4 linked regions of the Homo sapiens genome follow. The protein of the gene in region 4 interacts with the protein of the main gene of each other region in a pairwise test. Each region holds a gene or a part of one and is shown on either strand. Other genes may lie near its edges.

Evidence for each region.
Region 1: the proteins of CCDC146 (region 4) and NINL interact in binary tests that used the Homo sapiens proteins (3 or more experiments, as listed by UniProt).
Region 2: the proteins of CCDC146 (region 4) and KRT86 interact in binary tests that used the Homo sapiens proteins (3 or more experiments, as listed by UniProt).
Region 3: the proteins of CCDC146 (region 4) and MIPOL1 interact in binary tests that used the Homo sapiens proteins (3 or more experiments, as listed by UniProt).

Annotation. Positions count from the first base shown.
Region 1 is NC_000020.11:25,582,518-25,589,523, reverse strand, and holds the start of NINL (ninein-like protein), read left to right. Parts: upstream 1-3,992; 5' UTR 3,993-4,069; exon of another isoform or gene 4,070-4,873; coding exon of another isoform or gene 4,874-4,916; exon of another isoform or gene 4,917-4,935; coding exon of another isoform or gene 4,936-4,945; intron 4,946-7,006. UniProt on the Homo sapiens protein: Involved in the microtubule organization in interphase cells. Overexpression induces the fragmentation of the Golgi, and causes lysosomes to disperse toward the cell periphery; it also interferes with mitotic spindle assembly.
Region 2 is NC_000012.12:52,269,663-52,277,653, reverse strand, and holds the start of KRT86 (keratin, type II cuticular Hb6), read right to left. Parts: upstream 3,010-7,991; 5' UTR 2,935-3,009; coding exon of another isoform or gene 2,932-2,934; exon of another isoform or gene 2,577-2,931; intron 1,834-2,576; coding exon of another isoform or gene 1,708-1,833; intron 1-1,707.
Region 3 is NC_000014.9:37,200,927-37,207,951, forward strand, and holds part of MIPOL1 (mirror-image polydactyly gene 1 protein), read left to right. Parts: intron 1-7,025.
Region 4 is NC_000007.14:77,125,593-77,132,617, forward strand, and holds part of CCDC146 (coiled-coil domain-containing protein 146), read left to right. Parts: intron 1-913; exon of another isoform or gene 914-1,180; intron 1,181-2,913; exon of another isoform or gene 2,914-3,134; intron 3,135-7,025. UniProt on the Homo sapiens protein: Essential for sperm flagellum biogenesis and male fertility.

The sequences.
Region 1 (7,006 bases), on a different chromosome or scaffold from region 4:
GTGTGTGCCACCACGCCCAGCTAATTTTTGTATTTTTAGTAAATATGGTGTTTCATCATGTTGGCCAGGATGGTCTCGATCTCCTGACCTTGTGATCCGCCCACCTCGGCCTCCCAAAGTGCTGGGATTACAGGAGTGAGCCACCGCGCCCTGCCGTCGATTGCAGGTCTTAAGACTCTCCCATGAGAGGGTCTCACCCTATTCCCTGGGAGAAGGAATGCTGATATCATGAAGCTTTCATAAAACCCCAAGAGGACAGGGTTCAGTGAACTTCTGGGTAGGTGAACAGTGGAGGTTCCTGGAGGGTGGTGCCCAGGGAGGTATGGAAGCTCTGCCCCTTCCTCCAAACCTTGCCCTATGTGTCTCTTCACCTGTGTCCTTTACAATATCCATTATAATAAACCAGTGGGCCAGGCATGGTGGCTCACGCCTGTAATCCCAGCACTTTGGGAGGCCAAAGCAGGCAGATCACCTGCGGTCAGGAGTTCGAGACCAGCTTGGCCAACAGGACGAAACCCTGTCTCTACTAAAAATATAAAAATCTAGCCAGGTGTGGTGGCGCATGCCTGTAGTGCCAGCTTCTTGGGAGGCTGAGGCATGACAATCACTTGAACCTGGTAGGCGGAGGTTGCAGTGAGCTGGGATCGCACCACTGCACTCTAGCCTGGGCGACAGAGCAACACTCCGTCTCAAAAATAAATAAATAAAAATAAACCAGTGAACATAAGCGTTTCTCTGAGTTCTGTGAGCCACTCACAGGTAGCAAATTAATCGAAACCAAACAGGGGGTCAGGGGGTCATGGGAACCCCAACTTGAAGCTGATCTGTCAGAAGTTCTGCAGAGGCCCGGCCTTGCAACTGATGTATGTGAGGAGTCTTGGGGACTGAGTCCTCAACTTGTGGGATCTGACACTCTCTCCAGGTAGTGACAGAACTGAATTAGAGGATGCCCAGCTGGTGTCTGCTGCTCAGTGTGTGGAGAAAACCCCACACACATTTAGTCATAGGTCTTCTGTGTTGACTGTTGTGCGGTGTGAGAGTGGAGAGTTTTCTCTACACGACAATAAAATTGGAATGTCTGGAGGTAGGATGCAGGCACTGGTGTTTTTAATTTTTAAGTAGTCAAAGTGGAGAACTCCTAGTCTTCCCACTTCTCTCTGATGAAGAACCACTACATTAACTCATTTAAATTCGGTATGCTCAACTGGGCACGGTGCCTCATGCCTGCAATCTCAGTACTTTGGGGGGCCAAAGTGGGAGGATCATTTTAGCCCAGGAGTTCAAGACCAGCCTGGGCAACATAGACCCCATCTCTACAAAAAATTAGTAAGTTAGCCAGGTGTGGGGGTGCATCTGTAATGCAGCTATTTGGGAGGCTGAGGTGGGAGGATCACTTGAGCCCAGGAGATCAAGGCTGCAGTGAGCTGTGATCACACCACCACACTCCAGCCTGGGTAACAGACTGAGATCCTGTCTCAAGAAATAAAATAACAAATAAATTCAGTACACTCCTGTGCAATGGGTAATTTTTACATTTCTATTTTGCAAATGAAACTGAGATCACAGATGTTACATGACTGGGTGATCCACAGTCAAACAGCTAGTAAGTGGCATGATTCACATCTTCTGACTCCAAATTCATTCTCCAGCCAGTGAGTGGGAGCCCGTGCAGAGCATCAGGAGCACTGAAGAGAAGACATTCTTCACAATGGCAGCCCCCATGGCTCTGAGCACCCCTGGGAATCCAGGGTTATAAACTGGAGTCATCGGGGTCTTGGCTGCGCATCCCACAGGGACCACCTTTGCACGGTGTGTCCTGCCATTGTGCCCCACACTGGTTGGGACAGGTCATGGGCATAGCAAAAGGTATCTGGGCACATTCAGCAGGTCAGAGAAACCTCCCAGCCTAGAACACACTATGAGCGTCTCTGAACCACTCCCTGTGTTTGCCTTTTGCTCTGCATGGGGTTTAGCACTTGCAGGCACTTGGAAATTTCACTCGCCCTTGGAAACTCCGTTCCCCCATAGCCTGTCTTTCATCCTGCTTCCTTCTCACCCCATTTTGCCTCTGATCCTCACATCCTCTAAAGTGGAGTTCCTACAAAGTATATGCACCTTTCTCATGCTACAGTGTACTGTAGCTCATTTTGTAATTCTGATATAACTCTCTGACATTTTTGTATATTTATGTTTTTATTTTTATTTTTTGGAGACAGAGTCTTGCTCTGTCGCCCAAGCTGGAGTCTAGTGGCAAGATCTCAGCTCACTGCAACCTCCGACTCCTGGGTTCATGCAATTCTTGTGCCTCAGCCTCACGAGTAGCTGGGACTACAGGCGCGCGTTAACCACAACTGGCTAATTTTTTTGTGTTTCAGTAGACACTGGGTTTCACCATGTTGGCCACGCTGGTCTCGAACTCCTGTCCTCAGGCAATCTGCCCACAGTGGCCTCCCAAACTACTGGGATTACAGGCATGAGTCACCGTGCCTGGCTGTATTTACTTTTTTTTTTCTTTTTTTGAAATGGAGTCTCACTCTGTCGCCCAAGCTGGAGTGCAGTGGCTTGATAACCACAACCTCCGCCTCCCAGATTCAAGCGATTCTCCTGTCTCAGCCTCCTGAGTAGCTGGGATTACAGGCATATGCCATCACGCCCGGCTAATTTTGTATTTTTAGTAGAGACGGGGTTTCTCCATGTTGGTCAGGCTGGTCTTGAACTCCCGACCTCAGGTGATCCGCCTGCCTCAGCCCCCCAAAGTGCTGGGATGACAGGCATGAGCCACTATGCCCGGCCGGGTATTTACGTTTTTAAATTGTTTTCTGTGTAAACTCTATAAGGGCCAGGGATTTTTTGCACCGCTGTTGGCAGCCCCTAGGACAATGCCTGGCCCTAGTAGGTGTTCGATAAATATATACAGGTTGAATATCCCTTAACCGAGATGCTTGGCACCAGAAGCATTTAGGATTTCAGATTTTGGAATATTTGCATTATACCAATTGAACACCCCTAATCTGAAAATCCAAAATTAGAAATGCTCCAATGAGGCCAGGTGCGGTGGCTCATGCCAGTAATCCCAGCACTATGGGAGGCCAAGGTGGGAGGATCACTTGAGGCCAGAAATTCCAGACCAGCCTGGGCAACATGGTGAAGCCTCCTCTCTTAAAAAAATACAGGCCGGGCGCGGTGGCTCACGCCTGTAATCCCAGCACTTTGGGAGGCCGAGGCGGTGGATCCATCCCTTGAGCCTAGGAGTTCGAGACCAGCCTGGGCAACACAGTGAGACTCTGTGCTAAAAATACAAAAATTAGCGGACATGGTGGCAGATGCCTGCAGTCCCAGCTACTGGGGGTTGGGACGCTGAGGCGGGAGGATCGCCATAGCCGGGAAAGTCGAGGCTGTAGTGAGCCATGACCGCGCCACTGCATCCCAGGCTGGGCAGCAGAAGTGACAGCCTTTCTCAAAAGAAAAGAAAGTTAAAAGAAGAAAAAAGAAGTGCTCCAATGTGCATTTCCTTTGAGCATCAGGTCAGCGCTCAAAAACTTTCAGATTTTGAAGCATTTCGGATTTCAGATGTTTGGATTAGGGATGCTCAACCCGTATTGATTTAATATGCGGTGGAAACGTGACGACCTAGGTTTTAAGTCGCGGTTTCCTCAGTGGTGGGTTTGGGGTATTACCCCTGCCTGGCCGGCCTCCGGGCTTGTTTCCAGAAGATGCTACCCCGAGAGCTGCGAACCGCCAAGCTCCGCAGCGCGCAGGGCTCCGACAGGGACCAGCGAGGTCAGCTCCAAGGGTCACCCCAGGCTCCAAACTGGCCAGAGCCGCCCTGAGATTTGCGGAGGCCGCCTTGCCCCCACCCCGCCCCGCAATCCCGGACCCGACCCGCCCCCTCTCCCGTTCGCTCGCCCCGCCCCCTGTTCGCCCACTGCGCCGGGACACCGAGGGGGCGGTGCCTCGAGGCCGGGAGGAGTGTTGCGTCGCGGCCTCCAGACACAAAGAGCGGCCGGCGGTACGGGGGTGGTGCCGCGCTCCTGGCCCCGCGCGGGCGGACGGCGGAGGCGCCTCCCAGGTGAGCCGGCCCGGGCGTCCGGCGGGACATTCAGGCGGCTGGTGGGGTCGAGAGTCCGGGGCCGCCCCTGCGTCGCGACCCGCGCCTTAGTCACCAGACCCGGCTCCGGGAGCGCGGCCTCGGGTGCTCCTCGCGGTGCGGGGCGCAGACTCGGCGCATCTGCTGTGGTGCCTGCTCTTCCGGTCGCCCTCGAGGGCGGGGCGGGGGTCACGCCCTAAAATACAGCGCCCGCTGGGCCGAACGCTTGAAAACCCGGTTTCCCGACGGCGGCGGCGCGGGCGCCGTGCGAACGAGGGCCCGGGTCCAGCACAGCCCCAAGGCTCGGCCTGAGGCGGGCGGCCTTGGCCGGGGCCCCCCGTGGTAATGAGCTACGCGGTGCCCGCCGCCTGCCCAGCGCGGGCCGTTTCTCCTGACGCCGCCGGCGTCTGGTCGAGGCCCAGGATTCCCTCCTGCCAGTGTGGCTGCGGCCCCCCACGGAGCGGGACCCGCGTTCGTGGCGCTTGGGACGGTTGATTGAAAGGGTGTAGAAGTCTGTTGCGAATTTTATCTGTTGTACTCGTTTTGCAGATTCGCCCCTTTCCTCCCGCCTGTGCGCGCAGTCACACACACCATGTGGGAGTCTCTGATCGCGTTGGGTTCATAATCATCGATCGTGCCTGGGTACTGATGCCCCATTGTTAGGAGCTCTGTGTGGGGCTGTATGTTTGCACAGGACTCACGTGAGGAAGGGTGGCCACGTTTCTTTCTGCTCTGTGAGACTTAGGCCAAGCCCTGGAACTAGGGAGGAGGTTCAGGAAGAGACCCATGAAGCTGGCGGGGCCTTGGAGAAGGGCAAGTGATTTTCAAGGTCAGTAGTAAGAGGGGTCATGAGTAATGGTAAGTTTCTTAGCGGCCTTTGCTGTGACTTCTAGGTTTTTCACACTGGACTTAAAATACTTTTAAAAGCAGAGTTTTTGTTCTTCTTGTTGTTGTTCTTGTTGTTGTTGCTGTTTTTGAAACGAAGTTTCACTCTTGTTGCCCAGGCTGGAGTGCAATGGCGCCATCTCGGCTCACTGCAACCTCTGCCTCCCGGATTCAAGCGATTCTCCTGCCTCAGCCTCCCGAGTAGCTGGGATTACACGCCCAGCTAATTTTTTGTGTTTTTAGTGGAGATGGGGGTTTCACCATGTTGGCCAGGCTGGTCTCGAACTTCTGACCTTCAGGTGATCCAGCTGCCTCGGCCTCCCAAAGTTCTGGGATTACAGGCGTGAGCCACTGCACCCGGCCAAGTTTTTGTTTTGTTTTGTTTTTGTTTTTTAATTTTATTTTACTTTAAGTTCTGGGATACATGTGCAGAACGTTCTGGTTTGTTACATGGGTATACATGTGCCATGATGGTTTGCTGCACCTATCAACCCGTCATCTAGATTTTAAGCCCCACATACATTAGGTATTTGTCCTAATGCTCTCCCTCCTCTTGCCCCCCACCCGCCCCGACAGGTCCCGATGTGTGAGGTGTGTGATGTTCCCCTCCCTGTGTCCATGTGTTCTCATTGTCAACTCCCACTTATGAGTGAGAACATGCGGTGTTTGGTTTTCTGTTCTTGTGTTAGTTTGCTGAGAATGATGGCTTCCCACTTTATGCATGTCCCTGCAAAGGACATGAACTCATTCTTTTTTATGGCTACGTAGTATTCCATGGTGTATCTGTACCACATTTTCTTTATTCAGTCTATCCGTGATGGGCATTTGGGTTGGTTCCAAGTCTTTGCTATTGTAAATAGTGCTGCAATAAACATACACGTTTATGTGTCTTTATAGTAGAATGATTTATAGTCCTTTGGGTATATACCCAGTAATGGGATCACCGGGTCAAATGTTATTTCTGGTTCTAGATCCTTGAGGAATCGCCACACTGTCTTCCACAATGGTTGAACTAATTTACACTCCCACCAACAGTGTAAAAGCGTTCCTATTCCTCCACAGCCTCTCCAGCATCTGTTGTTTCCTTGCTTTTTAATAATTACCATTCTAACTGATGTGAGATGGTATCTCATTGTGGTTTTGATTTGCATTTCTCTAATGACCAGTGATGATGAGCTTTTTTTTTAATATATGTTGTTGGCTGCATAAATGTCTTCTTTTGAGAAGTGTCTGTTCATTTCCTTTGGCCACTTTTTGATGGGGTTGTTTTTTTCTTGTAAATTTGTTTAAGTTCCTTCTATATTCTGGATATTAGACCTTTGTCAGAAGGGTAGATTGCAAAAATTTTACCCCGTTCTGTAGGTTGCCTGTTCACTCTGAAGAGTTTCTTTTGCTGTGGAGAAGCTCTTAGGTTAGATCCCATTTGTCAGTTTTGGCTTTTGTTGCCATTGCTTTTGGTGTTTAGTCATGAAGACTTTGCCCATGCCTATGTCCTGAATAGTATTGCCTAGGTTTTCTTTTAGGTTTTTTATGGTTTTGGGTTTTACATTTAAGTCTTTAATCCATCTTGAGTTAATTTTTGCATAAGGTGTAAGGAAGGAGTCCAGTTTCTGTTTACTGCATATGGCTAGCCAGTTTTCCCAGCACAATTTATTAAATAGGAAATCCTTTCCCCATTGCTTGTTTTTGTCAGGTTTGTCGAAGATCAGATAGTTGTAGAAAGCAGAGTTTGTTTTTTTTTTAAGTAGTTAAAACTCATCTGTTAAACAGAACACTGAATCAGCAGCCTAGCAGTTTTATGAACTGTGTGCAAGAATGCTTGTATATTAAAAGGAAAATGTTCAGGTGTTAGAGAAGCAGTCTACTTTCATGCTTGTCCCTTTTGTTTGACTTATACATCATCCATTAGTGGTTTAAATGATGACAGATTGAATTGATCTGTATTGGCAAATAAAAGTGGGATGTGTGTTTATGTAAAGTTCAGGTGCAATAAAAATTAGAGGATAACTCTTTTTTGTAGAATGAGAAAATAGC
Region 2 (7,991 bases), on a different chromosome or scaffold from region 4:
TCAGTACTCACACAGCTGCTACATCACATCCTGCTTAGCTCGCTGCAGGGCAGCCTCCAGCCAAGCCAGCTTGCCCTTGGTGCTGCCAGAGCCACCCTCCTCCTGCAGAGCTGGCGGGTCCTTGACTTCCTCTAGTTCACAGGGCGTAGGGAGCGAAGGGTAGACCAAGGACAGAAGGACATTATTGGCCCTCACTCCTTCCCCCTTAAGGATCCAGACCTTGCTCTGAGGCTGCAGAGCCAATGAGGGATTGGAGATTGTCCATGGTTGCAAGGAGTGAGCACACCTGTTCCAAAACTTGTGTTTGTTTGTCTGTATGGCAAGATGAAAAGAACCTGCCCACCTGTCTACCTTCAGGGTGAAGATTTGAAACCGGCTATCTAGGATGGCTGAGAGAGAGCCTTTTACGTCTAGTATGGAGAAACTCCTAATATGAGCCAGGATCCCAGAAGCATCCAATGCTCTTTGGCATGTAATGCTGTGGTTATTGTTTCCTAAGGAAAACTAGCAAGAAGAATATCCATTCCTCACGGGAACCTAGAGTTTATACTCTTCAGGAGGAAAAATAATAAGACCTTGGTGAAGTGTATTTGCTGCTTGGGGAACCAGAACAGCTGTGGCTGGTGGGACCCTGACCATGATGGCCCACCCACTCACTCTGCCCCCTCAGAACCTCAGCAGCTTATCCCTTCTCAGAGTCACCCATTCCTGTACAAGGGAGATCTCTCTCCATGAATACCCTTCCAAGCCTGAGACACTTGCATCTGCAGAAAGCAAGAAAAGACCGGGAACAGAAGCCCTTCCCTCCATGGAGTGAGACTTGAGCCAGCGGGGGTGTGAGAGGGCTGGGAGGTGGGTGGGTTAAGAGAGGAGGCTAAGAGAGAATGGGAGAAAGAAAACATCCTGGAGGACTAGCTCCTTTCTAAGGCTCACAAATGCAAGTGCTTGCAGAGGCCTAGCTGGAAGCATCAAAAGGTGAAGGCTAAATATACATCAGGAGTACCCAGTTCCACAAATACATCTGCCCTCTCCCATTTCCTGAAATCACCAGCACCTCTTTTATATTTTCAGACTTGCATTTCTCTGGCGACATTGACTCAGCACCTTTTCTCTTCTACAAGGATAATAACTTGCAGCCAGGACAGTGATAAATGGCAAGGGACCCTCTGCCTCACATCCAAAGGATGGGATTGGGAGTGGTGGGGACTGCGGCACACCAGGCAGCCTATACCGCATGTGAAGAAGAGAGAGATGATAGAGGCCTCTCTCCTCTAGCCAAATGTTGCCATTTGAGAATCATAATTTAACATTGCCAGATCTTCACATTTTGAAATAGAACCCAGAAAACTGGGTTTCTAGGTAATATCTTGCAATTTCTGAAGATGGGCTCAAATGTAATACTGAGCGAGAAAAACAAAACACAGACATAAAAATGAACATACACAAGTAAAAAGATAATAATGTACAAACAAGCATATATCTTCATACAGATTTACCTACATGTTCATTACTTACATAAAATACACAATGTCCTAGGCAGAGGTAAGCATGATATATGCATGCAGCTGCACTGCTGTATGCTTAGACATTCACTAAGAGAAAGTGTAGCCATCTAATCCAAAGGGTAGGTGGGGAGGGGCAGTTGTCATAAATAATGGTCACCATCCCACCATGGCCACTCTGTTGCCCCCCACTCCCACCTCTCACCTGACTCTCAGCACTGCCCACCTCCACCGTCAGCCACTGGATGGCCTGATTAAGCCTGTTCAGATCCTCCTTGCTGGGCTTCAGGCTCTGCGTGTGTTTCTGCACAGTTGCCTTTAATTCCTCACACTGTGGAGCAGACGGCAGAGGGGAGCTGTAGTCAGGAGGTGAGGAGGCCAGACAGGGCTGCCCATCCACCTGCTGTCACCAGTGGTCACCTAGCTTCTCTGGGCATCCCTTTCTCCATCTGTGAAATGGGAGTGATCATTTTTCCTATCTCCAAAGGTTGTTGAAAGAACACAGTGAGCTTGCCTTGTGCCCATGGGGCCAGAAGATGCCAAAGGAAGCCTGAACTCAGGCAGGAAGGGCAGCAACACAGGGCAGTGATCTGTTGAGGGGAGCTTTGGGACCAAGATCACATAGGGTTTATCCCAGGAACAGGGAGAGTTAAACTCTAGGAAACTGATTATTGTAGTTTACAACATCTAACCATTTAAATTAGTACAAAAAAAATTAATGAAATTCAATATTTCCTAATTTAAAAAACACATTTTAAAATCTAGGATTAGGAAGAAATGTCCTTAATTTGAATGCCATTAATCAGAAACCAGGGACAGTGATCTAGATTCCAGCTTCTTCCCCAAACCCAAGGCTGCTATGGGAAGTGCTGTCTATGAAATCAGGGGACCACTTCCCTTCTTGCACCTCGCCCCCATGTGCATTCAATACACGAATAGCCAGGGAACAATAACTCACACTTGCACAGTGCCTGATGCTTTTCACAAGCTTTTACTCCACGATCTCACTGGGGCCTCACAACCACCCATGAAGTTGGCCAGATGGATGTGACTTTTCCCATTGTCTTTCCTCAGGCAAACTGGGGCTCATTCCATCCACCACGTGCAAGAGGGGAGTGAGTGACCCTGCCAGCCGACAGTTGAGCCAGACTACATTTTAAGCCCATGCTCTTTGCTCTCCACCAAGGTTATACACACCCCCTCAACCCAGAGAGCAAGAACTGTTCACACCAGCCCATTGCAAACTTTCTTCTAGGGCAGATGGAGTGTGGGGGAACAGACCTCAAAACATCATCTCAATTTCTGCTGTGTTCCCACTGCCCCCAACTTTTCTGCTCCTGTTCCCAAAAGCTGTATGCCCAACAGATCTGGGTGAAGTCCAAGACACCTCATCCCTGTGTGACCAGGGAGCCACGTGTATGAGTCTCACCATGGAGAAAGAACTGTGGTCTCCTCCAAGCCTCTCTTGAGCACCAAAGCCCAGCTTCAGCCCAAGAGCTACCAGAATCCTTGCCACTGAGGACTAGGGCCTCTTCTTCCTGGGGGCTCTGTGACCTCATCTCATTACAATCACAGAGTTCTGCCCAGGAGGCCTCAGGGGCATAGGGTAGAAGAGGGCCATACTCTGACCCCAGGTGGGAAAATGGAAGTTTCTGGGCTGAAGTGGAACTTAAAGGAAAGTGGAGGAGGGGAAGGCTACCTCAGGTGGAGGAAATGTGTGGAGCTGAGGAGCTTAGGCTTATGGATGGGCACTGGGGAGCCACAGAGGGTGTCTGAGCAGGACAGTGGCCTGACATGAGATGTGATTGTCTAGAAGCAGTGCAGAAGATTGACAGGAGGGCAAGAAATTGGGACTGGGGATGCCAGTCCCAAGACTTGGTAGGAAATCTTGGGTAGGGCAATGACTTTAACCTGTAGGAATGAGTAGGGGCTAGAGAGCACAAGCTGTGGTCAGCATTTTCTTTTTGTTTTATAAATTTCTCATATATGCAAAAGAGTATGCAAAACCTACATTTATTGATTTCAATAGCAACAATAATAAAACAAATCCTTGTGTACCCACCAGTACCTTCAAAGCCCCCTGCGGGATTTTTGCTGATCCATCTCCAACCCCATCTGATCCCCAAAGTAACCACTGTCCTGAGTTTTTATATTGGTCATTCCCTTGCTTTTCTTTATTACTATGTCATAACGTGTATCCATAAACTAGTGTTGAGTTTTGCCTACCTTTAAGTTTTATATAAATAGAATTACACCTTGTACATTTCTATGACTTGCTTTTTCCTCCTCAACATACTAGTTTTGAGATTCATCTTTTTGATGCATGTAGTTTTATTTCTCAGTGTTGTATAGTATTCCAAAGTATGACTACATATATATAGATAGATACAGATATAGACACACACATATACATATATCTCTATTTTCCTATAGGTAGCACATGTGTTTTTTGTTTTTGTTGTAACAAACAATGCTGCCATGAACTTTCTTGTACATATCTGCTGGTGGACCTCAACAAGAGGTTCTTTGGGGTACTAGTTGTCAAACTGTTTTTTAACCTCAACTCTAAATAAGAAATATATGTTGTATCATGAATCACTACCTACGTACAAATACACCACATCTACTGAAATAAGTTTCATGGAAAAATCATTTACTTCTACTATGTGTAAGGCAATCTGATCTAACCAATCACCTTAACACATTCTTTTACTTTCAACTTATGTCCTCATGTTTTAAGTTTATTTCTTATAACTAGCATATTACTTTATTATTATAATATAATGAAAATGAAATACTCATGAACCTACTTACTGATCCCAAAACTAAAATCTTACTAGTAATTTACATTTAGCTCCATGCTCCTTCCCTACCCTGTCCTCTCCTAACCACCCCAGAGGTAACCACTTCCCTAAAGTTGATATAATTCCTTTGTTTTTTCTTAGCTTTATCAAATACATGCATATGCCTCAATATATATTTGTTTCAGTTTTTTTGTTCTTTTTTTATAAAAAGTGTGTCACACAGGGTCTTGTTTTATTCAACATTATGTTGCTAGTATTCCTCCATTATAATATTAATATTCCATTCTTATAGTATTCCATTGTGTAACTATACCACACTTTAGGTAATTCTATTACTGTTTTGTTTTGTTTCTTTCTCTTACAAAGGTGGTGCCATGAACATTTTTCTACATGTCCTCCGATGCACATATGTGAGGATTTGTATACAACTACAAACAGAACTTCTGACTCATAGGATGGTCAGAATCTTATAAAGGTGTTAACTTTATAAGATAATATAAAATTATTTTCCAAAGTTGTTATAACAATTCACACTTTGCTCAGCAATGTGAAAAAGATTCGTATCCTCTTTAATGTGTCTTAATTTTCAACAATTAAATAATGCAATCTCATTTTTGGTCTTGCTTTGTATTTTCATGATTACTGTTAAAGTTTAATATCTCTTTAAATGTCTATTACATGTGTATTTCCTTTTCTTTTGTCCATTTTTTTCTATTGGGTTTTTGCTGTATTCTAAAGGATTATAAGTGTTCTTTATATTTCTGAGTATTACTATTATATCACTTACATATATCACAAATATTATCAAGTTTACAGCTTATCTTTTCACTTTATCACCTATTTTGAAAAATAAAGTTGTTAGTTTTAATGTAATCTAATTTATCAATCTTTTATGTTGAGCATTTTATGTGACATGTTTAAAAATCCTTCTCTACACCAAGGTCAGAAAAATATTCTCCAATATTTTCTTCTAAAATTCTTAAAGTTTTGCTTTTGACATTTGTAATTTAAATTAATTTGAAACTGATTTTGTGTATAAGAGAAAACAGGGATCTAATTTTATTTTTTACATGTGGTTAACCAATGCATAGTCCTTTTCACTACTGATCTGCCATACCACTTCTATTTTACAACAAAATCATTTACTTATTTATAAATAAATTTAGGGGCTATTTTGTTCCATTGGTCAGTTTGTCTATTTTTGTGTGGGTACTATACTTTCTCAATTACTATAACTCTATAATACATTATAATCCCTGAAAGAGAGAGTACCTATTTCTTCCTTCTCATCATTCCTTAGCTGTTCTTGACCTTTGTTCTTCCCCATAAATTTTAGAATCAACTTGTCAAGAATTATGTAAATCTTCATTTGGAATTTGAGTGTAGTTGCGTCAACTCTGTAGATCACTGTAAGGATAATTAACATATTCATGATAGTAAAGCTTCCTATCTAAGAACATGGTATAGCTCTTCATTTAATTATGTCTTCTTTATCTTTTCTTTCCTATAACATTTTGTGTAACGCTTATATTTCTCTAGGTGTAAGTCTTTCACATATGTGTTAGATTTATTTCTAAGTATCTTATGCATTTTAAATCATTATTTTATCAACTTAATTGACATATAATTTGCATACAATTGTATCTCAATAAAGCGCACACATTCTAAAAGTACAGTTCAACAAATTTTGACAGATGTATGCTCCAATCTAATCACCACTGAATGAATCTAGTTCATTATTTTTTGTTGCTGAATGATATTTTATTGTATGACTATATCTCAATTTGTTTATCCATTCATCTGCTGGTACACATTTGGGTTGTTTCCAATTTAGGGCTATTATAAATAAAGCTTCTATAAAATTCATGTACAAGTCTCTGTATAGATCTGCTTTTATTTCTTTTGAGCAAATACCCAGGAGTGGAATTGCTGCATCATTTGATAAGTGCATGTTTAACTTCATAAGAAATTGCCAAACTGTTTTCCAAAGTTGCTCAATCATTTTACACTCCACAAAAGTTTCAGCTGATTCACACTTGGTATTGTCAGTCTATTAAATTTTAGCCTTCTAAAGGAGGCAAGAAGCAAGGAGGAAAAGAAGACCAGAGAAGGGAAGGGAAGAGCAAGACAGCAAGGGAAGCAGAAGGTTGAAAGATGGTTGGTGAGAGGCTATCCTCTTCGTGGGTTCAGTCAGGTCAGAATCCTCAAACAGAACATGCCCATGGGCTACGTGCCACTCCTCTCAATAGCCTTTCTCAGCTTGAGGGCAGCAGGGGCCAAGGAAGAGAGATTCCCACACAACAAGAAGTAAGAAGTGGGAAGCAGACAACGTGGATCAGGGTGGGTCAAGCAGTGGCGCCCTGCCACCAGGCTGCACAAGGTCAGGTAGGGCCAGCTGGGACCCTCGCAAGGGTGAGAGGCTGGGCTGGGTGCATCCTCAAGCTCTGCCAACTTAACACTTCCTGTAGCTGCTGCCACAGGCCCCATCCCACAGGAGCTGATGCCGCAGGTGCAGGTGGCCAAGAGGCCCCCACAGGCAACCCCACCAAGGAGCTGCTCACACCTGCACAGAGACAGCCATAAGAAGTTAAACCCTTTGGTCGGGGTGGGAGCTGGTCCCAAAAAGCCCCACCTCCAATCAGCACTGGCTTCCTACCAGCTGGGAGCAGCCAGGAGGATGGCTTCTTCTCACCTCCATCTCCAGGGGTGAAGATGGCATTGCTTCCCTGTAGTCTGTGCGAGGGACTGACACCCTGACTAGGAGGGACTCCATCTTGGGGTTTAATCTCAATCCCTTCTTTTTTTTGTGAGATGGAGTCTCACTCTGTCACCCAGGCTGGAGTGCAGTGGCACGATCTCGGCTCACTGCAACCTCCACCTCCCAGGTTCAAGCAATTCTTGTGCCCCAGCCTCCCAAGTAGCTGGGATTACAGGCACGCACCATCATGCCTGGCTAATTTTTTGTATTTTTAGTAGAGATGGGGTTTCACCATGTTGGCCAGGCTGGTCTCAAACTCCTGACCTCAAGTGATCCACCTGCCTCAGCCTCCCAAAGTGCTGGGAATACAGGTGTGAGCCACCACACCCAGCCTCAATCCCTTCTTTCTGTAAATATGAGCTCTTACTATATTGCCTGGGCTGGTCTCAAACTCCTAGGCTCAAGCAACCCACCTGCCTCGGTCTCCCAAAGTTCCAAAGGGATTACAAGGGTGAGCCACCGTACTCGGCTGAGACCCTGTCTCAAAAGAAAAAAAAAAAAATCAGGATGACCTTAGGATCCACAACATGTGGATTTGATTACAGCTCATTCAATCCACATGTATTTAAAGAAGATTAAATGCATGTTTTAATCCAGTAAAGTGACTGACATCTTGAACATGGACAAGTATGTTTGGACAGGGAGAGAATAAGAGCTTCCTACTGAAGGGGAGAAATTATAATTTTCCTCAACCCACATAAATTCGTAGTTGAGACAGACTCCTGCAACAACAGACAGATTAACAAGAGAAAAACAAGCAAGTTTACCAACAGGAGCAGTGCACGTCATGGAAGGAGAAAAGTAACAACCAGGGACTCTACATGAACAAACGGACTGGAGAATGAATGCTGAGATCCAGGAAGGGCACACACAGGCTCTGTGGCTTATGTAGTCATTCATCGATACTCATGGGGGACTGGTTCCAGG
Region 3 (7,025 bases), on a different chromosome or scaffold from region 4:
AGGTGTACCTCTGTCACCCAGGCTGGAGTGCAGTGGGGTGATCTCGGTTCACTGCAGCCTCTGCCTCCTGGGCTGAAGTGATCCTCTCACCTCGGCTTCCCAAGTAGCTAGGGTTACAGGCACACACCAACATGCCCAGGCTAATTTTAATATTTTTTTGTGGAGATGGGGTTTTGCCATGTTGCCCAGGCTGGTTTTAAACTCCTGAGCTCAAGTGATCCTCCTTCCCCAGCCTCCCTAAATGCTGGGATTACAGGCACAAGCCACCACACCTGGCCAGTATTGTAAAGCAGCATGTGTTATAGTGTTTTGGTGTTGGATTTCAGATCTCTAAACATACTTTATTTGGTTTACCAGTTTTACCTTAAGACTAATTAGAGGCCAGTTTGATTCTTGTCTGAATTGTTTTTACTTCTCCCACTTTCTTCTCACCCTGTAAATCTGAAGAACAAAAGACAGGTAAGAAGTGAGAAAAGAAAGAAGAGACAGTCTTTCTTTGATATTATTTAAAAGGCTAGGAAAGAAAAGGATGAATGTCTAGACAGTTCTGGATATTTTGAGTAAAAATATGTAAAAATATATAATATAGTTATTGTAATATTTTAAGGTGCATTTTGTCCTTTGAGCTGTTCCATCTTGGGTTTTCTGACATTTTTATCTAGTGATTGAGTACACTCATGATATAGGACGTAATAGCCATTGACTTGGGCCGTGAAGCTCAACTGTGACACCTCTTCCCAGGATGGAGGCCCTTTCTTCCTTAAATGTCTCTTTGGGCTGCCCAGTTCATCTTTTACTCTTGGCCCCCTGCCTTTTGCTCAGTATTGCCCAAAATTTTACTTTAATACCATTCAGCCCACCATCCATGTTAACATTTTTAGCTAACACTTTCTAGGTATTTGTTGTTGTTCTTGTTGTTGCTTTTAGAAACAGGATCTTGCTCTGTCACTCAGGCTGGAGTACAGTGGTGCAATCATAGCTCACTGTAACCTTGACCTGGGGTCAAGCTGTCTTCCCTGCTGCAACCTCCCAAGTAGATAGGACTGCAGGTGCTCAACATCACACCTAGCTATTTTGTTTTCTGTTTTTGTTGAGACAGAGTCTACCTTTGTTGTCCGGTCTAGTATCCAACCCCTGGCCTCAGGTCCTCCTGCCTCGACCTCCCAAAGTGCCAGGATTACAGGCATTAGCCACTGCACCAGCCCATTTCTTGTTTTTAAGTAATTTATAGAAGTGAATTTAGTGCACATTTAGATATATGCTAATACTAATGAAGGGTGTGAGGGTAATTTCATCAGTGTGATCCTTCTTTGATATGTATAATTGTTTTTTTTAGTCTTACTTGATTGTTATGCAGATAGATTTAAGAGGGGCCTCACCTTCCACTATCAATTCATTGCAGTTAAGTAAGCTTTTCTCATATAGAAATTCTGGATCCAGTACATACTGCATTTCATTACACACACACACACACACACACAAACACACACACAATGACTAATGTAAATACCTTCCTGCTTTATAAGTCCCACACAAAGCAATTGTGTTCATATGCGTGTTTTTCATGGCACTCCTTGAATCAGCTTGGAGTCACTACAAATTATTATGGGTAATAAAGGGCATGTGCCAGTAGGAGGGATTCTCAGACAAGGGAGTCCCCTCCCTCCAGGGCTTCAGACTTCATAAGGGAGCAAATAGGGAATTTATGTGGCACAAATATTTAATTTGTACGATCATCCTTAGGTGATGCTTTCATATTAGTAAGGATGTATTTGTGAGTCCAATTGTAGTCATTAGCTTCTGACCGTACCTTCTCCCCTGCATATTGCCTGCACTACATTGCCATTGTTGACTTCTGGGACAATTTTCCAGGATTTCATTACTAACAAACCTTGCCTTTTCTGGTTGCAGTTTTTAGATACTTTATTTAGGTTACATTTAATCTTGTTTACCATATTTAGGGTGACTGTGTGTTCAAGGTGAATGTATTTGTCTATTGCTTATTTGTTGCTTTTATAATTTATTTCCAGCAAATCTTATTACTAGTACGTCCAGCTACCTGGGACTGGGGATGGGCAGATGACTCACTTCCACTTGCAACTTCACGTACCATCTAGAGATGGCTTTAGGGTTGATGAGAGAAAAAGAGATAATGCACAAGATTAATCAATTGTAGCTGCTTTTGTCAGCATTGTATTATTATTCTCTCTATTGAATTTATTAGATTTTGAGACTATCATAAAGAGAAGATAGAACTGTTTTAGAGCATTAATTACAAAAACAGTTTACTATAGTGGAAAGAGCACTGGGCATAAGAGCAAAATAAGTGTGGCTCACTACCTGTTTGTTTTAACTTTTCCTGGAACTCAGCTTTCTTTTGTGAAATGAGGCCTTTTGATGAAGTATCTCTAATCTCTGGTAATCTTTTTCAAAAGACTGCCAAGAGACCGTAGGGGTCATTTAGGCTACCTTCTCAGTTTAGTCACATAGTTACTAGAACCTATTTTTGTTCTGGTTTTTATTCCAGTTGCTTTTTCCATTATACTACCTGTGATAGGGAGCCTTCTAAAATGACCTTGGTATTCACTCTTGTGTAGTTCCTTCCTCTTGAGGGTGAACTAGACCTAGAGGCTCACTTCTACTAGAATATGGCAAAAATGGTGTGATGTCACTTCTCAGATTAGATTACAAAATCTATGACTTCCCTTTTTGCTGGCACTCTGTTGCTCACTCACCTTGAGGAAGTCAGCTGTCATGTTGTGAACTGACCTGTGAAAAGGCCCACCTGTCAAGGAACTGAAGGGGACCTCCAGCCAGTAAGGAACTGAGGTTCTCAGTCTAAAAAACCTCAGGCATTTGTTTATTTATTTATTTGAGATGAAGTCTCACTCTGCCGCCCAGGCTGGAAAGCAGTGGTGCGATCTTGGCTCACTGCAACCTCCGCCTCCCGGGTTCAAGCAATTCTCCTGCCTCAGCCTCCCAAGTAGCTGGGACTGCAGGCACATGCCACCACGCCCAGCTAATTTTTTATATTTTTAGTAGCGACAGGGTTTCACCACGTTAGCCAGGATGGTCTTGATCTCCTGACCACGTGGTCCGCCCACCTTGGCCTCTCAAAGTGCTGGGATTACAGACGTGAGCCACTGCGCCCAGCCCCCTCAGGGATATTAATCCTGCCAACGACCACCGAGAGAGTTTGGAAGCAGATCCTCTCCCTGTTGAACATTGAGATGACTGCACCCCTGGCTGACACTTCGATTCCAGCCTTTTGAGAGACCCTGGGCTGGAGGACTTAGCCAAGCAACACTCAATTTCTGATTTTTAGCAACTGTGAGATTGCAAATGTGTATTGTTTTAAGCTGTTGAATTTGGGTTTAATGTGTTAAGTAGTGAGATTGCAAATGTGTATTGTTTTAAGCTGTTGAATTTGGGTTTAATGTGTTAAGTAGTGATATAGTTTGCCTGTGTCCCCACGCAAATCTCATCTTGAATTGTAGCTGCCATAATTCCTTCATGTTGTGGGAGGGATCCAGTGGGAGATAATTGAATCATGGGTGGTTTCTCTCATACCGTTCTCATGGTAGTGAATAAGTCCATGAGATGTGATGGTTTTATAAGGGGAAACCCCTTTTGCTTGGCTTTCATTCTTTTTTGCTGCCGCCATGTGAGATGTGCCTTTCACCTTTCACGATGATTGTGAGGCCTCCCAAGCCACGTGGAACTGCGAGCCCATTAAACCTCTTTCTTTTGTAAATTGCCTGGTCTCAAGTATGTCTTTATTAGCAGCGTGAAAACGGACTAACACAGTAAACAGACTAACACAGTAAATGGACTAATACAGTAGAGTGGGGTGCTGCTGAAAAGATACCTGAAAATGTGGAAGTGACTTTGAAACTGGGTAACAAGCAGAGGCTGGAATAGTTTGGAGGGCTCAGAAGAAGACAGGAAAATGTGGGAAAGTTTGGAACTTCCTGGAGACTTATTGAATGGCTTTGCCCAAAATGCTGATAGTGATATGGACAATAAAATCTAGGCTGAGGTGGTCTCAGATAGAAATGAGGAACTTGTTGAGAACTGTAGCAAAAGCAAAGAGACTGGCGGCATTTTGCTCCTGCCCCAGAGATTTGTCGAACTTTGAACTTGAGAGAGATGATTTAAGATATCTGATGGAATAAGTTTTTTGTTTTTTTTTTTGAGACGGAGTTTTGCTTTTATTGTCCAGGCTGGGGTGCAGTGACACGATCTCAGTTCACTGCAACCTCCACCTCTGGGTTCAAGTGATTCTCCTGCTTCAGCCTCCTGAGTAGCTGGGATTACAGGCATGCACTACCACGCCCAGCTAATTTTTTGTATTTTTAGTAGAGACAGGATTTCATCATGTTGGCCAGGCTGGTCTGGAACTCCTGACCTCAGGTGATCCACCCACCTCGGCCTCCCAAAGTGCAGGGATTACAGGTATAAGCCACTGCACCCAGCCAGTGGAAGAAATTTTTAAGCAACAAAGCTTTCAAGAGGTGACATGGCTGCTGTTAAAACACATTCAGTTTTTTTTTTTTAATACCTTAAGTTCTAGGGTACATGTACACAAAGTGCAGGTTTGATACATAGGTATATACATGTGCCATGTTGGTTTGCTGCATCCATCAACTCATCATTTACATTGGGTGTTTCTCCAAATGCTGTCCCCCGCCAGCTCCCCATCCCCCAACAGGCCCTGGTGTGTGATGTTGCCTACCCTGTGTCCAAGTGATCTCATTGTTCAGTTCCCACCTATGAGTGAGAACTTGCGGTGTTTGGTTTTCTGTCCTTGTGATAGTTTGCTCAGAATGATGGTTTCCAGCTTCATCCATGTCCCTGCAAAGGACATGATCTCATGCTTTTTTATGGCTGCATAGTATTCCATGGTGTAAATGTGCCACATTGTCTTAATCCAGTCTGTCATTGTTGGACATTTGGGTTGATTCCAAGTCTTTGCTGTTGTGAATAGTACCATATAAACATACATGTGCCTGAAACACATTCGGTTTTATAAGGGAAGCAGAGCATAAAAGTTCAGAAAATTTGCAGCCTGACCCTGCAATTGAAAAGAAAAACCCATTTTCTGAGGAGAAATTCAAGCCAGCTGCAGAAATTTGCCTAAGTAACAAGGAGCCAAATGTTCATCCCCAAGACAATGGGGAAAATGTCCCCAGGGTATGTCAGAGGTCTTCATGGCAGCCCCTCCCATCATAGGCCCAAAGGCCTAGGAGGAAAAAATGGTTTCATGGACCAAGCTTAGGGTCCCCATGCTATGTCCAAGGACTTGGTACCCTGTGTCCCAGACACGCCAGCCTTGGCTGAAAGGGGCCAATGTAGAGCTCAGGCCATGGCTTCAGAGTGCGCAGGCCCGAAGCCTTGGAAGCTTCCATGTGATGTTGAGCCTGTGAGTGCACCGAAGTCAAGAACTGGGGTTTGCAAATCTTCGCCTAGATTTAAGAGGATATATGGAAATGCCTGGATATCCAGGCAGAAGTTTGCTACAGGGATGGGGCCCTCATGGAGAACTTCTGGTAGGGCAGTGCATAAGGGAAATGTGGGATTGGATCCCCCACACAAAGTCCCTACTGGAGCACTGCCTAGTGGAACTGTGAGAAGGGGGCCACCATCCTCCAGACCCCAGAATGGTAGATCCACTGACAGCTTGCACCATGCTCCTGGAAAAGCCTCAGACACTCAACACTGATACGTGAAAGCAGCTGGGAGGGAGGCTGTACCCTGCAAAGCCACAGGGGCAGAGCTGCCCAAGATGTAGGAACCCACCTCTTGCATCAGTGTGACCTGCATGTGAGACATGGAGTCAAAGGAGATAATTTTGGAGCCTTAAGATTTGACTGTCCTGCTGGATTTTGGACTTGCATTGGGCCTATGGCCCCTTCATTTTGGCCAATTTCTCCCATTTGGAATGGCTGTATTTACCCAATGCCTGTACCCCCATTGTATCTAGGAACTAACTTGCTTTTGATTTTGCAGGCTCACAGGTGGAAAAGACTTGCCTTGTCTTGGATGAGACTTAGGGCTGTGGACTTTTGAGTTAATGCTGAAATGAGTTAAGACTTTGGGGGATTGTTGGGAAGACATGATTGGTTTTGAAATGTTAGGACATGAGATTTGGGAGGAACCAGGGGCGGAATGATATGGTTTGGCTGTATTCCCACTCAAATCTCATCTTGAATTGTAGCTCCCGTAATTCCCTCATGTGGTGGAAGGGACCCAGTGGGAGATACTTGAATCATGGGGGCAGTTCCCCCATACTGTTCTCCTGGTAGTGAATAAGTCCAGGTGAGTTCTGATGGTTTTATAGAACCCTTTCGCTTGGCTTTCATTCTCTCCTGCCACCACCATGTGAAATGTGCCTTTTACCTTCCATGATGATTGTGAGGCCTCTCGATCCATGTGGAACTGTGAGTCTATTAAACCTCTTTCTTTTGCAAATTGCCTAGTCTTGGGTATGTTTTCATCAGCAGTGTGAAAACAGACTAATATAGGTAGCAATAGACAACTACACTATTCATTAATATCAGAAAAGCTTTAATCTGTTTTTATCAGTTTAAACTTATTTGAGGATATGATATTATTATTATTATTATTATTATTTTTTGAGATGGAGTCTCTCTCTGTTGCTCAGGCTGGAGTGCAGTGGCACGATCTTGGCTCACTGCAACCTCTGCCTCCCAGGTTCATGCGATTCTTGTGCTTCAGCCTCCCGAGTAGCTGGGATTACAGGCACGTGCCATCATGCCTGGCTAATTTTTGTATTTTTAGTAGAGATGGGGTTTTACCACATTGGCCAGGCTGGTCTTGAACTCCTGACCTCAGGTGATCTACCCACCTCAGCCCCCCAAAGTGCTGGGATTACAGGTGTGAGCCACCATGCCAGGCTGAGGGCATGCTATTTTTATATCTTGAAAAACCAATTATTAACAGTTTTAACTATAAATCCCATACTTGTTTTTGGTTATAATTTAATTGCTAGGTGTTTGTTTTAT
Region 4 (7,025 bases):
AGATTTCTTACCATCTAGATATAAATGTCAACGAATATTTTATTTAATGATTTATGTTCAATAAATGGACAGCAGAGGTCATAAGAGAGTTTTCAGAAGAAAAGGTAACCAAAACAAAGAATTCAGCAATTTAGCTTAAGAGAAAAGCCATAAGAATTTAACTTTCTGAATTATAAACTATTTAAAAAGAGATATATCTTATGACTTCTATTATTCTTATGAAATATTAATAAACTCAACAATCTTAACTAATAACTATCAACATTGAGAAGTATTTAATGAATATATATAGGTACTAATTCTATTTGAAATCTCTATGTGAAACTGCAAATAGACAGTTTTATTTCTTCCTTTCTCATCTGTATGGCTTTTCTTTCCTAGTGTTATTGCACTGGCTAAGACCGCCACTACAATATTGAGTTGGAGTGGCAAAAGCAAAAATCCTTGATTTATTTCCTATTTATGAGGGAAATTTCAACAACAATTAGGAAGTTAGCAGTAGATTTTTAAAGATGCCCTTTAGCAAGTTAAGGAAGTTTACTTTCTAATTTGCTTAGACTTTTTATCATAAGTGAATGTTGCATTTTGTCAAATGCTTTTTCTGTATCTATGAAGATGATCATATTGTTTTTCTTCTGATTTATTGATATGTGTATTACAGTGATTGATTTTCAAGTGTTTCATTCCCTCAATAAGCTACATTTCATCATGTTATTGTCAGGGAGTTTTGGGTTGTCAATTTCCTGGCCAGAAACCTCTGTGGCCACAGCACCTTTGCCCGAATTCTTGTCCTGCATCCAGGAAGAATGAGGTACGCAGACAAGTGAAGGGTGAACGAGACGAAGATGAGCTTTATTAAGTGTTACAAGAGCTCAGAGGAGACCCACAGTGGGTAGCTCCTCTCTGTAGGAAGATCATCTGTCCAGCATTCAGTTCTCATTAGAGAGGTGGCCCTGGAGAGGGTAGCTCCTCTCTACTACTGGTTGTCCCAATGTCTGCAGCTCTCAGTGGAGAGGAGGCCCTGGAGAGGGTGCCTCCTGTCTGCTGGCAGGTTGTCTCTGAAGCTCTCGGCAGAGACGGTAGCTCCTTTCTGCAGCTGGTCCTTGTGTAGTCTGTCTATCCTCTTCGTCCTTTGGCCATCGTCTGCCCTGCTCTGGCTGAGCCCAGGGCTTTTATGGACCTCAGAGGGGAGGAAGTGCATGCTGATTGGTCCATGGGCAGCCATGGGCTGCTGGAAGAGGCCCCATGAGTCCCCAAACTGGTATGCAGGACCAGCAGTTGGCCCCCAGCCTTCAGGCCCTCCCTGGACTGAAGGTAGAGCCTTACTGGGGACCTGCCCCCTTCCACCCAAGAATCTGTCTGCCTCCCGCTGCCATTCATGGCCCCAGGGCTCAACCCCAACCCCACTCCAAGATCTGAGCCAGCTCCAGGAGAGGAGAGAGGTCAGGCAGCGGGAGCAGACACCCCAAGCCTGCAGGGATGGGGGGCCTTCCGGGGCACCAGAGGGTACAGGCTGCAGAGATGCCTGGGTCCCGTGGGTGAGAGGGCAGTGGCAGCTGCACCCAGGGAGCTCCCGCAGGCCAACTCAGCAGGGGCGGGATTCCCCAGCTCCTGCCTGCTCCATGTTGTGGGAGGCCCAGGTCAGCAGCTGCTGGTCAGGCGGCTGCAGCTGCACCCAAGAGGGCAGATCCTGCCTGTTCCCAGCCCCACTTCAAGAGCGCAGGGAGGCTCAGATCTACAGCTGCAGTTTGGGCGGCTGTAGCACCGTCCAGGAGGGTGGGGCTCCTGACTGCCCCATGGAGTGGGAGGCCTGGGTCTGCAGTCTCAGCCTTTCCTCCCTACTGCAGCCAGCGTGATGGCACCAGCCACTGCCATCATTATCTTTTCTATAAATTGCTAGATTCAACTTGCTAAATTTGTGAGGATTTTTACATTTTATTTTCATGAAGGATATTGGTCCAAAGTATTCTTTCATGTCTTTTTCTGGTTTTGATATTAGGGTAAAATTAGAAGGGCAAATGTTGCCTCTTTTATTTTATGGAAGATTGTTAGAATATTGTTAATATGGTTTAGTTTTATTTGTCCTGCTCAGAAGTCAATACGCTTTCTTTGTCTAAAGTCTCCAATTTATAAACCTTCAGCGTTTCCTTGCTCTTTCTATTCTTTACTTTTGGAGCTCTCATTTAGACATGTATTTTAATTTCTCATTCTGTCATCCATATCCCTTAACTGTGTTTATATGATTTATGCCTCTTCATCTTTTCGTATTTCATTCTGGATGATTTCCTCAAATCTATGTTCTAATTCATTAATTCCTTCCCAATCTTTGCTAATCCATTGTTTAATATCTGCATTGAATTTTTCATCCCAATGACTATATTATCATTTCTAGAATATTTATTTGGTTCTTTAAAAAATCTATTTTCTCTTATTTTAAACTGCTCCGTTTATTTTACTGTGGTTTCTTTACCTTCTCTTGCCTTTTTAATTATTTTAAACATACTGATGCAAAATTATTCTAGTCTGTTCTGTTATGAGGTTGCTGTTTCTCTTTTGCTACATAAACAAACTCTGTTTCATGGTGGTTTATTTCTTGTCATGGCTTATAAATTTTTATTTATAGCTCATCTTCAGCGGGAGTTCTCTTTTCTGAAAATCCTTTACATTCTAGATTACAATAAAATTTTTCTTGTTCCCTGTAGAACAATTTTGGATTTGCTTCAGTCAGAACTCGACCAATTTCCATGGTCATGGGCCAGGTTTTCGATTTTTATTTCCTTTTATTTTTGCTTCATTTCCTTCTGTGCAAAGTAATTCATTCATACAAAAGAATAAAGTATGAATAAAGTCTAAAGAATAATAGTAAAAAGAACATCTTTATGCCTAACACCCAGTTTAAGAAATAAGACATACCAATAAGTTTCAGTTTCCTTGTTTCTTTTTTCCTCCTTTATCTTCTGGCTTTCACTTAAAAGCAGGCTGAATTGAGAACTGTGTAGAAGAAAAGGGGCTCCTGCCACACAGAAATTGTAGGGAAATCCCGATTTTTTTCTTTCCGTTTTGGTCTGCTGGCCCTGCCACAAAGCCAGCTCCAAACATAGATTTGCACTGCCACTGCCAGGCTGTGAGGTTTCCTAAGAATAAAAGAGAACACTGTCTCTCTGAATAGAGGAACTGGAAAGAGAGTGTGTGGGGGAATCCCGATACTCTTTCTCTCTTTTTCTTGATATTTTACCTCGAGGGCAGCCCCAAGTACTTAGAAGTGAATGGCAGCATAAGGCAAAATCTTTAAGACAGCCTGATCCTTTTGGCCATAACAAAAGGGGCCCACAAAAACTGTAAAGTGTAGCCGAAATCCCATGTAGAAGAGAACTAGAGAAGGTGATCCTAATTCTATGTTTGAAACTACGTAAGTAACAGGGTCAGCCCTACTCCTGCACAAACATGGAGTACAGTAGGCCCCTCTTATCTTTGGCTTTGCTTTCTGAGGTTTCAGTTTCCCATGATGAACTGCAGTCTGAAAATATTAAATGGAAAATTCTGGAAATAACTTGTAAATTTTAAATTGCACACAGTTCTGAGAACATGATGAAATCTTGCACTGTCTCACTCCATCCTTTGTGCAGCATATCCACACTGTCTACCCTACCCACCCAATTGTCACTCAGTAGCTTAGCTGTTTTGGTTATCAGATTTGCTGTTGTGATATCTCAGTGCTCGTATTCAAGTAACCCTTATTTTACTTAATAATGGCTCCAAAGCACAAGAGTAGTAATGCCAGCAATTAGGACATACCAAAGAGAAGCCATAAAGTATTTCCTGTGAGTGAAAAAGTGAAACATTCTCAATTTAATAAGGAAAGAAAAAAACTATATGCTGAGATTGCTAAGATCTAAGGTTAGAATGAATCTTCTGCCTGTGAAATTGTGAAGAATGAAAAATAAATTAATTCATAGTGTATATAGAGTTTGGTACCAATCCTGGTTTCAGTCATCCACTGGGGATCTTGGAACATATCCCCCATGAATAAGGAGATACTACTGTAATCTCTACTGATCTGTCTTCAAGTTCACTGATTTTCTCCTTGTTCAAATCTACCATTGAACCCCCCCAGCGAATTTTTCAATTATTATAATTTTCTACTTAGGAATTTCAATTTGGTTTCCTAAAAATTTCTACTTATTGATATTCTCTGATGAATTACATCATACTCTTCTTTAATTCTTTAAATATGGTTTCCTTTCATTCTTCAAACATATTTATAATATCTGCTTTGAAGTCACTGTTAAATCAGACACCTGCCCACTAGTCATTTCATAGGCATCTCAGTTATCAGATCAACTGTTGATGTATCTCAGTGCTTGCATTCAACTAACCCTATTTTACTTCATAAGGGCCCCAAAGTACAAGAGTAGTGATGCTGACTACTTGGATATACCAAAGAGGAGCCATAAAGTGCTTCCTTTAAGTGAAAAGGTGAAAGTTTTTGACTTAATAAGGAAATAAAAAAATCATATGCTGAGGTTGCTAAAATCTATGATAAGAACAAATCTTCTATTTGTGAAATTGTGGAGAAGACAATTTTGTACTAGTTTTGCTGTCACATCTCAAACTGCAAAAGTTATAGCCACAGTGCCTGTATAGGATATATAGGGTACTATCCACAGTTTGAGGCATCCACTGGAGGTCTTATAAACGCATCCCATGCAGATAAGGGGAGGACTACTCAAGAAAGCATAGTTAAGGCTTTGAGAAATGAACTATGATAAAAATACCACAAAGGTCTCAGAACAACTCGCAAGCGTTGCATGTAATGTACAGACCCAAAGAGCATAGCAAAGGCTTTGAAAACTAAATATTGGAATTACTGTCCCTGAAGGCATGACAGAACTTGTGATCTGAGCCTAACCAGATTGATTACTTACTAAAACAAACAAAAATCAGTATCTTTAGAAGATTTTAACAGGACCCAGAGCTTCATAGCCAGCATAATATCCTTTCTTTCTTTTTTTTTTTTTTTTTTTGAGACGGAGTTTCGCTCTGTCGCCCAGGCTGGAGTGCAGTGGCGCGATCTCGACTCACTGCAAGCTCCGCCTCCCAGGTTCACGCCATTCTCCTGCCTCAGCCTCCCGTGTAGCTGGGACTACAGGCGCGCGCCACCATGCCCGGCTAATTTTTGTATTTTTAGTAGAGACGGGGTTTCACCGTGTTAGCCAGGATGGTCTCGATCTCCTGACCTCGTGATCCGCCCGTCTGGGCCTCCCAAAGTGCTGGGATTACAGGCGTGAGCCACCGCGCCCGGCCCTTTTTTTTTTTTTAAACGGAGTCTCACTCTGTCATCCAGGCTGGAGTGCAATGGCGCAATCTCGGCTCACTGCAACCTCTGCCTCCCAGGTTCAAGCGATTCTCCCGCCTCAGGTTCCCAAGTAGCTGGGAATACTGGCGCATGCCACCACACCTGGCCAATTTTTATAAAGACGGGGTTTCACCATGTCGGCCAGGCTGGTCTCAAACTCCTGACCTCAAGTGATTCTCCCACCTTGGCTTCCCAAGGCTGGGATTACAGGCATGAACAGCATAATAGTCAAATTGTCCATCTTAAAATCCCAAATTACTCAACATATCAGAAACAGGAAAATCTGGCCAAAATTTTCAAAGGAAAAGTTACCACCCCCAAATTATCAAAGACTATTTACAATCGCCAAAAACCTTGAAACAACCCAAAGGTCTCTCAAATGTGAGTGGAAAAGCAAACTGTAGTACATCCACATAATGGAATGCTGCTCAGTAATAAAAAGTGACAATTGGTACACACAACAAAATAGATAAAAATCTCAAGAACAGGCCGGGTGCAGTGGCTCACACCTGTAATCTCAGCACTTTGGGAGGCCGAGGTGGGCTGATTACTTGAGGTCAGAATTTTGAGACCAGCTTGGCCAACGTGGCGAAACCACGTCTCTACTAAAAATACAAAGATTACCCAGGCATGGTGGTGGGTGCCTGTAGTCCCAGCTATTTGAATGGCTGAGGCAGGAGGATCCCTTGAACCTGGGAGGTAGAGGTTGCAGTGAACCAAGATCGTGCCACTGCACTTAAGCCTGGGCAACAGAGTGAGACTCCGTCTAAAAGAAAACAAAAACATAAACAAAAAACAAAAAACTCAAGAACATTTTACAAAGTGAAAGAAGCTATACTCGAAAGATTACATACTCTGTGATTCCACTTATATGATATTCTGGAAAAGGCTAAATAAAAACGATAGGGAGCAGATCACTTGTTGCCAGGAGTTACATGTGGAGATAAAGTTTGACTACAAAGGGGTACTGCATGAAAGAATTTACTTTGGGCCAAGGGAAGGGAAAGAACTGTTCTGCATCTTGATTGTAGTCATGGTAACTTGCGTACAAGCATTTGATAGAATGCATAGAACTGTAAACAAAAAGAGTAATTTTTACTCTATGTAAATTTAAAAGTGAATTTCAAAAAATCATGCATAAAAAGAAAACACCATCTGTGAAGCAGATGACCTTACAGGTGAATTCTACCAGACATTTTCAGAGAAATAATAATAGCAGTTTTACATAAACTGTCTCAAAAATTAGAAAGGAGAGAACTCTTCCCAACTCACTTTATGAGGACAGTATTGTCTTGATAAAAAAATTAGACAAAAATATTGCCAAAAAAGAACTAGAAAACAATCCCTCATGAACACAAAAGCAAAATCCTTAACATTACATGAGCAAATCAAAATCAATAATATGGGAAAAGGATAATGCATCATGACCAAGTGGGGTTTATCTCTCGAATGCAAGATTAATTTTATGACTAAAAATCAAGCAGTGGACCAGGTGTGGTGGCTTATGCCTATAATCCCAGCAATTTGGGAAGCCGAGATGGGAGGATCACTTGAATCCAGGAGTTCAAGATCAGCCTGGGCAACATAGTGAGTCTCGATCTCTACAAAAAAAAAAAAAAAAAAGAAAGAAAGAAAAAAATCAGCCAGTCATGGTGGCACACACCTGTAG